Linked DNA regions of Homo sapiens. The protein of the gene in region 1 purifies or fractionates together with the protein of each later gene. This does not show direct contact. Each region holds a gene or a part of one and is shown on either strand. Other genes may lie near its edges.

Region 1 (3,652 bases):
TTCCTATGAATTGACAGGCTATTTCTCTTGTAAATACAAATCCATTTTAGTAAATCTTAGATTTAAATATATTAAACAAATGAGCAGTTTTGATTATGGATGTCCTCTAGCAAAATCATAAAGTGGTTACAGTAGACCACTTCAGTCAGTTTTACCTTTGCAAATTTTATACAATCTCTCAGACAGTTTACCTCCTATTTGTTAGCCCATTGAATCTGTATCATTTTAACTTCTCAGCTAAAAGACTTTCCACCTTTGTCTTTTTATCAGCTTTTTCCACTTGAAACTATTCCATAAGCTTCTTGATAATAGTCAATTTCTACTCATTTGGTAAAACTTTTTTGAGTATTTACTATATCATAGTAAGTAAGCAAGTTTCCAGGAAAAATAAGATCTAGTTCTTACCCCCAAAAAGAAGAGCAAACATAATATAATATTCAAGGCATAATGAAATAGTTGCTTTAAAATGTCTAAGCTTACTGTGGAAGCTAAGTGTAAGAAAAAAGTTGTTACTAAAGAGAAAATGGGGGACTTCAAAAATATTAAAGAATGAATAGAATTTTGAGACCTAGAGAAGAAGGTTATTTTAAGAAAATAACATACACAAGTATTTGAAAATATGAACATTTAGAACTTACTTAAAAGGTTTAGTAAGATACTGTCTAGAAAATTAGGTTCTGGATTTAAACTTTAAAAGTTTTCTATTAGACATCCAGAATTTTGTACTACGCTGTATTAGTGGGGAGCCAATGCAGTTTTTTAAAGTGGAAAATAATATAATGCAACCTTTGTTAAAAGAGCCTAAAGATTTTAACTAGCATAATACAGGATAAGTTAACTTACTTTACTACAGAGAAATGTGTATAGCTACTATACATCTTCCGTTTTTGCTGGGCATTTAATTAGAACTAACGCTTTTGACGTGACAGTCAGCATGGCAATGAATAGTCAGATAATGGATTCCTTTTACAACAGTGCTTGTTCAAGTTGCTGCTTCTGTCTGGAATTCTCTTTCTTCACTTCTACCAGTGGTGAGATTTGCCCATACTTTAGGCATCCTCTCAGGTATCATCTCTGTAACAAAACCACCAATGTATCCTATTCATCTATCCTTCATCCTTCTTAGAGTCTGTGCTCTTCCTTATGTTCTTATATCATCTTATACTTAACTTTTATTGTGGTTTATTTATAGTATTTATATGGTATAGTTTGTATACTATATATATTATAGTTTATAATATTTAAAATGCATTACTATTAATCCTTATGTATCTGTCTCTCATGTTTGATTTTGAACTCCTTGAAGGCAAATAACTTGTCAGTTTATTTCAGTATTACTAGCATAATTTTCAATAAATCTTGAGTTATTTGTTAAATTAACATTAAACATCACTGCAGTATTACACAAATGAGCTTCTTACTAATTTGTGCTATTGTGATCTTTGCAATTTATTTTAAAAGCCCATGGCCATTAACCAAAAGCAGTCAAATGCTGACCTGGCTCTAGTAAATACCAATTTTCAGTGTTACCTGTGTATTTTTATCATGATTTCCAATAAAAATTTAAGTAACAAGCAGACTTTATAGTAAAACTAAAATAGTTGGGATATTAAATGATGTTGAAATCAGGAAATCATTCCATGAGCCATTTAGCAATGCAAGTACTATATCAACTGTACTAACATAACGAGAAGCTTTTACTTGCTTGTGCTTTGCAAAAATAGCCATATGACAGAGTTAGAAGACAGCTTGCTACTCAAAGTGTGGTCCCTGTCCAGCATTATTAGCATCTCCTGGGAGCTTGTTAGGAGGAAGAATCCCAGGTCCCACCTAGACCTACTTAGTCAGAATCAGCATTTTAACAAGATTTCCCAGCTGATTTATATGCACATTAAGGTGTGAGAAGCACTTTTTCCCTAATAACATTTTAATATGATTTCCAAATGTATATCTTCACTGGAGAAAATTTTGAAACTACAGGAAAAAACAAAAAGGTAAAAAAAAGTATACATAATTCTGCCAAAAGGTAATGACTGTTAATTTTTGTATATATACTCTATTTTGTGTATAGACACACAAATTTCTACCAGCTCCAATTTTTTTTTTTTAAACAGAGTCTTACCGTGTCACCCAGGCTGGAGTGCAGTGGTGGGATTTCGACTCGCTGCAGCCTCTGCCTCCCAGGCTCAAGCGATCCTCCCATCTCAGTTTCCCAAGTAGCTGGGACTATAGGCATGTGCCACCATACCCGGCTAATTTTTTGTATTTTTGGTAGAGGTGGAGTTTCACCATGTTGCCCAGGTCGATCTTGAACTCCTGAACTCAAGTGATCTGCCTGCCTTGGCCTCCCAAAGTGCTGGGAATACAGGCCTGAGCCACTGCACCCAGCCCAGCTCCAGAATTTGGATCTTTCAAAACATAATGTTTAGTTAACATTTTTCTTTATAAAGAGTTGTTCTACAATACTATTTTGTATTAAATCATAAGGATATACTATAATTTATTTAACCAATCATTGGCCATCTAGGCTGTTTTTAATGTTTTGCTATTAAAAAATGCCATGATAAACATCTTTATAACTAAATATTTGTACATATTTAGGATTATTTTTATATTTTATAGGATTAATTTGAAGAAGTTATGACCATTTTAAGGCTTTTGCATTAAATTAATTGAATCCCAGATAAACATGCATATCTTTTTGGAGTTAATTATTATAATAATTATTTTTTCATAGATTATAGCACTTGAGAATGTGTGAAAATAATTATATAGCTACTATCCTTAATGATATTTTTAAAAACAAATTTAAGGCCAGGTGTGGTGGCTCACGCCTGTAATCCCAGCACTTTGGGAGGCTGAGGTGGGCAGATCCCTTGCAGTCAGGAGTTCAACAACAGCCTGGCCAACATGGTGAAACCCTGTCTCTACTAAAAATGCAAAAATTAGCCAGGCTCCATCTACAGGTGTGGTGGCGCACACCTGTAATCCCAGCTACTTGGGAGGCTGAGGCAGGAGAATCACTAGACCCCAGGAAGCAGAGGCTGCAGTGAGGTGAGATTGCACCACTGCAGTCCAGCCTGGGTGACAGAGTGAGACTCTATCTCAAAATAAATTAAAATAAAATAAAATAAAGAAAACACATTTAACATTGTAAAATTTATTCTCAAAACAGTATATTGATATTTTTAAAAATTAAAAATATAATGGCCCATTATACTTCCTTCTGTTACAACTACCAGGGTCATGGTAAGAACATTATATGTTTGTCCCCTCCAAATCTCATGTTGGAATGTGATCCCCAGTGTTGGAGGTGGGGCCTAATGGGAGGCGTTTGGGTCATGGGGGAGGATCTCTCATGAATGGCTTGGTGTCCTCCCAATGGGTAATGAGCTGGTTCTTGCTTTATTAGTTCATGCAATAACTGGTTGTTTTTTTAAAACAAACATGGCACTTCCCCCTCTCTCTTGCTCCCTCTCTTTGCCTGTGACATGCCTGCTCCCTCTTTGCCTTCTGCCATCATTGAAAGCTTCCTGAGGCCCTCATCAGAAGCAGATGTTGGCAGTATGCTTCTTCTACAGTCTGCAGAACCATGAGCCAAAATAAATCTCTTTATAAATTATTCTGCCTTAGGTATTTCTTTATAGTAATG
Region 2 (3,652 bases), on another chromosome or scaffold:
GTGCAGTCTGGTGAGGGAGAGCTACATTCAGATGACGAATTGCTATGTGAATCAATAAATAAGCCACTTAAAATTTTTACTTTAGCACCCAGCACATAGTATATTTGTCTTGAGTAATATGCATAAGGTGCTACAGAACCACAGCGAGTTGTGACTTTTGCATAGTTTGGCAGTGGGCTTGCAGAGGAAGGAAAATTAGATCTGGGTATGGAAAGAGTTCATTAGGTAGGAGTAGAATAGAGGGCTGAAGGTGTTCCAGGCAGAGGGCACGGCCCATGCAAAAGCATGGAGGCATGACACAGCACGCAATGTGCAGGGAATCATGGTTAATTTTGTAGGAAATCTCCAGAGTGGTGCCAGAGATATTCCTGGAAAGGTTGCCTGGAACTAGATCATGGAAGGTCTCATGTAGATACTGGGAATGTCGATGAATTTTAGGGGGTGTGTGTGTGGGTTTATCATGGTTAAAATTACTTTTTAGAACAGTCACTCTGAGGAAGAGGACAACTGAGGGGTAAAGAGGGAAAGACTAGGGCTTTTTGAGGGAGGCTTGTTAGGAAAGACTGGAGGCTTTTTGAGGGAAGTGTGTTAGGAAATACTAGGGCCTTTTTGAGGGAGGCTTGTTAGGTCACTGCAGTGGTCTTGGCTTGGCTAGGGCTGTGAGGAAGGAGAGAGGGTTTGGATTTTAGTAAAAGAGATACTGACATAAGTGTATTTGATTTTCAGACTCTGAGATTTGCCCACCTGATGACCTTGCCAGCTTGCCATCATGCAAAGAAAATCCTGAAGATGTTCTGAGCCCAACTTCAGTAGCTACTTACCTGAGTTCCAAGAGTCAGCCTTCTGCTAAAGTCAGTGTGATGGGGACTGATCAGTCAGAGAGCATTAATACCTCAAATGAGACAGAATACTTAAAACAGAAAATCCATGACTTGGAAACTGAGCTGGAAGGCTACCAGAATTTCATATTTCAGCTTCAAAAGCACTCCCAGTGCAGTGAGGCCATAATTACAGTTTTGTGTGGGACAGAAGGGGCCCAGGATGGCTTGAGCAAGCCCAAGAATGGTTCTGATGGGGAAGAAATGACCTTTTCAAGTTTGCACCAAGTGCGATACGTGAAACACGTGAAAATCCTCGGTCCGCTGGCCCCAGAGATGATTGACAGCAGGGTGCTGGAGAACCTCAAACAGCAGCTGGAGGAACAGGAATACAAGCTGCAGAAGGAGCAGAATTTGAACATGCAACTTTTCAGTGAGATCCATAATCTGCAGAATAAGTTCAGAGATCTCTCACCTCCCAGGTACGTTCCACCTCTGCCGTCTCCCCGTTTAAGCCTGTAGTCCCCCAGTATTGCCACTAGGTGGGAGCCCATGAGCTAAAAGAGAACACTACTCTGTGATGGGTAGAGTGTGTTCTGGGGAAGGCTTGATGGTGGGGTTCAGGCAGCCAGGTCCTGTGGAGAAGGGAGAGGTGAGGCCACAAAGAAGAGGAACAGCGACCACGCACTTGAACGTCAGTTACGAGTCTTGGGTCCTCTGGAAATCTGCAGGGCAGATTTCGCCCTCCTCAAGTTGGGGGCTCAGGGTAAAGGTTTCATACCAGTCACTTGGTGAGTGATAGTGCCTTTGCTGAACTGCAGTGTGTACTCCTGGACTCTGTTACTGGCTTTTGCTGTGCTGTGAAACTAAAACTGATGTCTAGGCAAGGTAGGAGGAATATAAATATTTTCCATATCTTTACCCTTTAAGGTCATCTTAGAGAAATAAGCTTGTGTTGAAAGAGAAGAATTCTTAGGTCATGAAGATAATGCTTTATGGGCATAGATATATACGGTTTTGCTTCATGAGATATGGCAAAAATGGGATCATTAGTAAAGTTGACCTTCATTTGTCACTAATTTGAGTCAAACACATTGTTCTGAATTGTCAGGAGCCAGGATGAATTTTTCAAGACTTCCCAAGCAGTGAGATTGAAGGAAGCTTGTAATTATTGAAAGGCTGTTGTCTCAGGCCCCTGGTTAGGCACTTTTCTTATCTAATCCTCAAAATCACCTGAGAAGGAGGTATTCTTAAACTAGTTATTACAGGTAGGGAAACTGAGCCTCAAAGTAGCTGCAGTGACTTGGCAGAGAACATTCACAGAGCTGGTCAGAGCCATTGCCAGGGTTCAAGCCCACATCATCCCACTCCAGTACCCATGTTTACTCATGTTACTCATGAGTTACCCATGTTTACCCATGTTACTCCAGTACTCACATGATACTGGCCCCCACCTTTAATGCTGGTATCATGTAATCTGCATGTGCACACTCTATGTTGAAGGTGACTGCCAGCCCATGTAGTGTTGTCATTTCCAGGAAGGAGAAAATTATGTTGAACTGAAGTGTCAACATCTTTGCCAAGCTACTCTCTGGAGCAAGGTTATTGTGGCCAGTTTACATGAGTCACATTTCCCTTAACCTGTTTACTTCTCAGTGTCTTTCTCTTATGGGCTCACGTAGGAAAAGGTGGCACATGACGGTAAAAAGGTAATATTGCATAATGATCTTCAAAGTGAGAATTGTGTTTGAATCCAAAATCTTTACCACTTAATTAGCTTTGCAGTCAGTTTATTCTTCTGTAAAAGGGGACATTTATACATTTGTTGGAAGACTGAGAGGATCAGATAACATATAAAGCACTGAATTCAGTTACTGACAGGTCCTAGACCCTCAGTAAATGGTAGTTAGCATCATGATTATTCAGTGACGTTTTGTTCGGGAGGAGAGAGTCCTGTCTTTTTTTCTTTGTGGTACACTTTCTTTATCACACTTCATGAGAATTTTTGGTAGATCCTCTGACCCTTGGGGCACTTGTTTCTACAATTCAGAATAGTATTTTTGAAGAGTGTATGGAAACTTATTGTTTGCCTGAGTTCTTGCCAATCTGTACTTTAATTGGGGGCTTTATAAGGTTAAAAATGTTGCAGAAGAATCTTTGTTCCAGCCTTTGTTGGCTGTGTGAAATCAAAGAAGAGCTGACCTTGTACAGTTTCAATTTTTCTAAAAGTATATATACTTGTACAGCTGCAGGCTTTTAAAAATTGTACTCTGTCATTTTTCCAATTAGTGTTAAGGTCACAAAAATTCAATTCTAAAATGGTCCAAGTATTTTCTTTCCCCTCTTTTATCAGATACGATTCATTAGTTCAGTCCCAAGCCAGGGAGCTCTCCCTTCAACGGCAGCAGATTAAGGATGGCCATGGCATCTGTGTCATCTCCCGTCAACACATGAACACCATGATTAAGGCATTTGAGGAGTTGCTGCAGGCCAGTGATGTGGATTACTGTGTGGCCGAGGGTTTCCAGGAACAGCTGAATCAATGTGCTGAGCTGCTGGAGAAATTGGAAAAGCTATTTCTCAACGGTAGGTAGGGTGAGGTACGCGAGTCTTAAGACATCAGTAATTGACCCAGGACTTCTTGGAGGGGCACAGGAGGAGCTAACTCCTTGGCCTTAGTTATCTTTCACCCCTCTGCCTTGATGAGGTGACAGCAGAACCACACTGGCTGCTGCTTCCTCCCAGTGACCACTTCCACATGGCTTGTGGTCGGCACTGTTACAAACCAGGAGTCCAGTTTAGACGCCTCAGGGGCCGGGCTGGTGAGGTACATG

The links.
Region 2: the proteins of PRKACB (region 1) and CDK5RAP2 purify together in Homo sapiens (affinity purification with mass spectrometry; 5 studies listed by BioGRID and IntAct, with this or other methods). This does not show direct contact.

What each region holds. Positions count from the first base shown.
Region 1 is NC_000001.11:84,147,171-84,150,822, forward strand, and holds part of PRKACB (cAMP-dependent protein kinase catalytic subunit beta), read left to right. Parts: intron 1-3,652. UniProt on the Homo sapiens protein: Mediates cAMP-dependent signaling triggered by receptor binding to GPCRs.
Region 2 is NC_000009.12:120,437,047-120,440,698, reverse strand, and holds part of CDK5RAP2 (CDK5 regulatory subunit-associated protein 2), read left to right. Parts: intron 1-726; coding exon 727-1,300; intron 1,301-3,171; coding exon 3,172-3,404; intron 3,405-3,652. UniProt on the Homo sapiens protein: Potential regulator of CDK5 activity via its interaction with CDK5R1. Negative regulator of centriole disengagement (licensing) which maintains centriole engagement and cohesion. Involved in regulation of mitotic spindle orientation.